Homo sapiens: one gene and its partner. The protein of the gene in region 2 purifies or fractionates together with the protein of the main gene of each other region. This does not show direct contact. Each region holds a gene or a part of one and is shown on either strand. Other genes may lie near its edges.

Region 1 (3,500 bases), on a different chromosome or scaffold from region 2:
AACAAATTATCTGTTACAGGCCTGCTATGTGTTAGTGCTGTGTACTGGGATGAGGGTCAGGACTGAAGATTGTGGGTAGACTAAAAATTTGTTGCCAATTTAGGCTGATATTTCTTTAAATATATATTCGGTATATATTTACTGGGAGGGAAGAACTCATTTACTATTAATAAAACGTGTAAACAAAGATTCATTTATTTACATCTATTGGCTAAAGTAGTATTCTGGAAAATAAAAGGTACACAATAAAACATTTTTGTATTTGATATTGTGGAAAACACAAAGTACATAATAAAACATTTCTATTCAATATTCTCTTTTTGAAATTTTTCTGAACTAACATTTTCTGAAACTTTTGGGGAGACATAGTAAAAGATTTAAACCCCTCAGTTATAATTGTACAACACATTTACTTTTTAACAATTATCATTTAGCCATCCACTTCTACTAGAGATGCAATAGTAAGAAAATAAATAGACTGATATTAATACAGTGTGATAAATACTATATTCAGAAGATACACTGTGAGAGTTCATAGGAGGGATATATAACCCAGCTTTTAAAGTGTCATGGGAGTTTTCTAGAGGAGCTAACTTAACCTCAGCTAAATCTTGTAACTGGTGGATGAAGAGCCCTAGGCCCAGGATGGGGTTGTGTTTTAGAGGCGAAAGTCAAAGCCAGCCAGAGATGGGGCTGAAGAGTTAAGCAAATATATGCAAAAGAACACTTATACTATCTCATAAATATATATGGAATTTTTTTCCCCTTAGAATAGTTTTGTTTTTTTGGAGTTATTGATTTTAAAGCTTTTTTCTTTTCCTTTTCCTTTTTTTTAACCTGCTTCACTTTTTTTTCTCCTTCTTTTAATCACTATCATTCTCAAAATGTTTGTTTAAAATGGAAGTGTATATGTAGCTATTGCCTTATATTTAGTGCTCATCCACATTAAGGTCTAAAGTAGTATACTTTGAACTTGAGGTATAAGTTTAGGCTAATTGTATGGAATGTGAGACTATTTTGAAAGGGGGGCAGTAACTTTACTGTTGGAATCAGCTGAGTGATCCCAAAGTACAATTTTAAAATTGTTTAGTAACAGAACAGATTCTTTCTAGACCAGAAATAAATGCTATTACTGGCATCCCAAGACAACCACTAACCCAATTTAAATGAAGGGAATTCATTTCTTACTGACCTCCATTTAAAATGTTGACCCATTATCCCAAATGCCAGTTTTACTGGTATGAATGATATATAATCAAAAGGTCACCCATCTTATTTCACTTATAAAGGTTACTAGATACAATAGAAATAGAAAATATTTGCCTCAACTAGGAACTTTCCTAGGTAGTGTAAGATTCTAATTAAACATTTGTTTACTATATTAGCATTTTTAATAGCCAACATAATAATTGCATTATTCCAGGAATTGTCCCAGGTATATTATTTTTTCTTGTGACTGTTCTATTAAGTAGGTAGTATTATCACCACCTCCCACTACGACTTTATTTTTTGAGACAGGGTCTCACTGTGTCGCCCACGCTGGAGCGCAGTGCTGTGATCATGGCTCACTGCAGCCTTGAGCTCCTGGGCTCAGGCCATCCTCCCACCTCAGCCTTTCTAGTAGGTGGGAATATAGGCATGTGCCACCACGCCTGGCTAATTTTTTAAATTTTTTGTAGAAATGGGGTTTCAGCCGGGTGTGGTGGCTCACGTCTGTAATCTCAGCACTTTGGGAGGCCAAGGTAGGCAGATCACGAGGTCAGGAGATCGAGACCATCCTGGTTAACATGGTGAAACACTCTCTCTACCAAAAACACAAACAATTAGCCGGGCGTGGTGGTGTGCGCCTGTAGTCCCAGCTACTTGGGAGGCTGGGGCAGGAGAATGGCGTGAACCCAGGAGGCGGAGCTCACAGTGAGCCGAGATAACACCACTGCACTCCAGCCTGGGTGACAGAGTGAGACTCTGCCTCAAAAAAAAAAAAAAAGAAAAAGAAAAAAAGAAATGGGGTTTCACGATGTTGCCCAAACTGGTCTCCAACTCCTGGGCTCAAGTGATCTAATTGCCTCAGCTTCCCAGAGTGGTGGGATTACAGGCATGAGCTGCTGTGCTTGGCCATACCCTCATTTTATAGATGAGAAAACTGAGACTTAGATTAATTAATTTGCCCAAGATCATATAGTGACAAGAGCCAGGATTCAAACCCAGGTCCTTCTGATTCTAAAGTCCATGCTTTTAACTACTATGCTTTTATGTATTTTTTATTTAAATTTTATAATGTTTATATATAGTTATAAACATTTTATTATAATAGATATTATTTTATGTTTATTTTTTATTTAAGCTAATTTTCACTTTTGCAAAGAAAATATTGGTACTCTTGGTTAATTTCTGTCATCCATTCAATAAATATTGAGCACTTGTTTTGAGTCAGGCACTGTGCTGAGTGCTGGATATATAGTGCTGAGCAAGTCAGACAAGATCCCTGCCTTTGGGGGACTTGCCTTCTGGTGAGGAAGACAGTCAGTAAACAGGTATGTAGGCAAGATAAGTACAGATTGTGGGGAGTTATAAGGATAATAAATATGGTGAGGTTCAGGAATAGAGAAGAAAGAAGGGTTAGATGGACTTTCAGATAGAGTGATTAGGGAAGGCCTCTCTGTGGAGACCACTTTGTGCAGAGACCTGATTAGGGAGGAACCATTTGTTTGCCAAATAAACAGTAACTGTTCTGTCTTGAAATGGGTATGTCCGTATTAAAATGAAGCCAATAATTTTGCCTACTGAGAATAATACATGTAAAGCCCTTAGCACAATACCTGGTATATAGTCAGAACTCAAATGTTATTATTATTAAAACAGTAATAGCATTACAGCATCAGATTTACTGGTTGTGTGTTTTTTACAGTGTTCCAAAATTAATGACTCTTACGTAGCTCATGTTGAAGGTGCTGTGTCACTGAGAATTTTTTTTTTTTCCCCCTAAGCATCTGTTATGGCTGGCATGGTATTAGGCCTTGCAGATATAGCTAGGAACATTCCTTTATGGTTATAAAGAAATCAGGAAATTGATGGTGTTTTTCTTTTAGTTTTGAAAATATCACTAAACTTGTTACTATGGTATTATGTGTGATAAGGCTGTTGGTTTTGTTCTTTCACAAGACCTCATTCTTGAGTGATATTTAAATTAATGATTCAGTAATATACTGGCCTATGGTAATTGAAAACATGGAAAGTGAAAGGGCAGTTTTAAAGTCTCATAGAGTCAAAAAATAAGGTTGGAATTGCATAGTCCTAATATAGTACCTAGCTGGTGGAGTAGAGTGAACTCATAGTATGAACAAAATCATTTCTATAGCTTCTTCAATTGAGTGGAAACCTAGTTGTCCAAAAGAGTTAATTAAATTTAGCTCCAGAGGTTTTACCCAGAGAGTAGTTTTATTAGAAAGATTGGAAGCAATGGTATTGGAAGGATTAACATTTTGCAGTCCGGGGAAAGC
Region 2 (3,133 bases):
TATTGCATTCTGTCCTCACTGTCTTGAGGATCTTCCTCCCCGGCTCATCACTCCCCATGGGCAGCTGCCAGGGTAGGCGCTGTCACCTTCTGTTGACAACAGTCAGTAGCTCCTAAGGACTAAAACTGTTCAGCCCAGCATTCAGCTCTTTGGAGGAGTCCATCTGTCCCCCAGCACATCCAGGAGTAAGGATTCCGACTGGTCCACTCCTCATCCTGGTGTCTTCAGCTTCTCTGCTGCCATGTTCTTTGCTGGGATGGCTGCTTCCCAACTCCACCTCCAGAATCAAGGATATTCCTCCAAGCCCAGCTCGAATGCTTGATCTGCCTGGAGCCTTCCTGGTCATCCTTGGGTGACCTGGAGCTGGTGCTGTTAGAGCACTTCTGCTCTGCCCTGATGTGCAGTTGTTGTGAATGGGCCACTCCATAGTTTATCCTTCCTCACACCCCTGGGGCATAGTACCCTATTCAAGTTTGTCCAATGAGTGCATGGGTGAATTAATGAATGAATGAACAAATGAGTCTTTGCCCTAGACAACTTAAGGTCCTCACTCTGCATTAGGAGCCTCCATTTTTCTCCAGATGGTTGAAATAACCAGCCTCTGAAGGAGCCAATGGTTTGGTCACTGCTCTCTCAGCAAATTACAGTCACTGTCACTTAGCATGGAGAGTGGACGTTGCACATCACTGTGAAACCTTGCAGAGGAGGAGAGGGCAGGTTCATCAGAAGAAAGAAAGGACAAAATGACTCCTTATGAAGCATTTTGTGCCTTCTGTGAGAAAACATGTATTTAGATCAGATAAACTCTAGTCAAAATACAAAAAGGAAAAATGAAAGACCTCTGAAATAGGAACAATCTCTTGAAGAGGCAAATGACTCAAAACTGCTCAGTGGCTCTTTCAGAAAATCTAAGTAAAGTTCCCTGACAACAGAAACTGAAGAGATTGCCTGGTTCATCTTGTAGTCTTCCAAAACAGCAGATAATTTCTGAATCTCAGATGTTGAATCAGTGCAACGGGATGGATTTCTTGTTCCTAAGTGTTAAATGATCACATACATAAAAGAGTCTGAGCCTGAGCAACATAATGAGACCCTGTCTCTACAAAAAAAAAAAAAAGATTAGCCAGGCGTGGTGGTGCACACTGATAGTCCCAGCTACTCAGGAGGCTGAGGGAGGCGGATCACTTGAGCTAGAGAGTTCAAAGCTGCAGTGAGCCATGTTTGTGCCACTGCACTCCAGCCTGGGCAACAAAGTGAGACCCTGTCTGGAAAAAAAAAAAAAAAAAGCGTCTGCATAATTCCTGGTGCATTTTGTGGATATACAATATGAGTATGTGTTCCATGTTTTCAGAAATTCAAAGGAAGCGTTTCCACAATATGTGACGGTTTATTTCCCAAGAGATGAAAAGATTCATTAAGGTGCATGCTTTGATTTAACATCTGCAAACATTTAAAAAATATAACAGTGTGTGACGTAGCAGTGAGAGTACTATCTTTTTTTAAAAAGGGAAATTAAGATTTATTTCTGGCCAATGTGAACAGAAATAAGTCACTTTATCTCACTGAGCACCAATTTTACACGTGGAAAATAGAAGAATTGGACCAAATCAGCAGTTTCAAGCTGAGTTGCAAAAGTTCATGGAACCATTTCAGTCGCTTCATGGAATCGGGGTAGGCATGAGGCCCGTTGTTCTTTCAACCTGAGCCGCATGGCTCTTGTGTCTTTAAACCTTGTGGTAGGATTTTTTTTTTTTTCTGCTTTAATAAGTGAAGGGTCAGGGCACCAGTTGGTGTCTGAGATGCCCTCCAGTCTGGGGAACCCCGTAGATGCTTAGACTACTTTGAACTGAAGTATGTGCAGTCTGCCATCTCACATTAAAATGTAGGCATTTTGTCAATTGCTTTTCTTTCATCTGCACAAGAGGAAGGAGAGAACGAATCAATACAACCACTCTTTTCCTTGAGACTGCAAAGAAAATGGTTCTATAGTTTGATGGTTCTACTTCCCAGATGCTACCTCTCAGATTTATTCTCAACAGAAAATTTTTTGATTACAGCAGACCAGATCTTTATCTGTCAATAAGTTAAAAAAGATAATCTGGGCTGGATGTGGTGGCTCACTCCTGTAATTCCAGCACTTCGGGAGGCCAAGACAGGAGGATTGCTTGAGCCCAGGAATTTGAGACCAGCCTGGGCAACATGGCGAAACCCCACCTCTACAAAAAAATACAAAAAAATTATTTGGGACTGGTGGCGCATGCCTGTGGTCCCAGCTACTCGGGAGGCTGAGGTGGGAAGATCATTTGAGCCCAGGAGGTTGAGGCTGCAGTGAGCTATGATCTTGCCACTGCACTCCAGCCTGGGTGACAGAGTGAGACCTTGCCTCAAAAAGAAAAAAATAAAGAAAAGAAAATCTGAAAGGGAAAGCAGGCATCAACTTCCAGGGATCTAATAACTTCCTAACTTAAAGCAACAGAACTTACCTAACTTTTGGACTTTTCATTTTAAAACTTTGCCTCTAGCAGTGGACACTGTCCTCAACACAGCTACAGTTTATGTAACACAGAGTCCATATTATATGGGGCATGTCTGTATCAAAATGTCATATGTAGAAATAAAGTATTAAATATTAAGGTGTGGCATAATTATCTGACTTTAAAAATCATCATTTAGTGGCCGGGCATGGTGGCTCACGCCTGTAATCCCAGCACTTTGGGAGGCCAAGGCGGGCAGATCACCTGAGGTCAGGAGTTTGAGACCAGCGTGGCCAACACAGTGAAACCTTGTCTCTACTAAAAATACAAAAAATTAGCCGGGTGTGATGGTGGGTGCCTGTAATCCCAGCTACTTGGGGGACTGGGGCAGAAGAATTGCTTGAACCTGGGAGGCAGAGGTTGCAGTGAGCCGAGATCGGGCCACTGCACTCCAGCCTGGGTGACAGAACGACACTCTGTCTCAAACAAATAAGTTAATTAAATTAAATAAAAATCATCATTTAAAAATCTATTCCTGGCCAGGTGCAGTGGCTAATGCCTGTAATCCCAGCACTTCGGGTGTCTGAGGTGGGTGGATCACCTGAGGTCGGGAGTTCGAGACCAGCCTGACCAACATGGAGAAACACTGTCTCTACTAA

The links.
Region 1: the proteins of TMEM213 (region 2) and DCUN1D5 purify together in Homo sapiens (affinity purification with mass spectrometry; one large-scale study listed by BioGRID and IntAct). This does not show direct contact.

The regions. Positions count from the first base shown.
Region 1 is NC_000011.10:103,085,661-103,089,160, reverse strand, and holds part of DCUN1D5 (DCN1-like protein 5), read left to right. Parts: intron 1-3,500. UniProt on the Homo sapiens protein: Contributes to the neddylation of all cullins by transferring NEDD8 from N-terminally acetylated NEDD8-conjugating E2s enzyme to different cullin C-terminal domain-RBX complexes which is necessary for the activation of cullin-RING E3 ubiquitin ligases (CRLs).
Region 2 is NC_000007.14:138,804,127-138,807,259, forward strand, and holds the end of TMEM213 (transmembrane protein 213 precursor), read left to right. Parts: 3' UTR 1-2,633; downstream 2,634-3,133.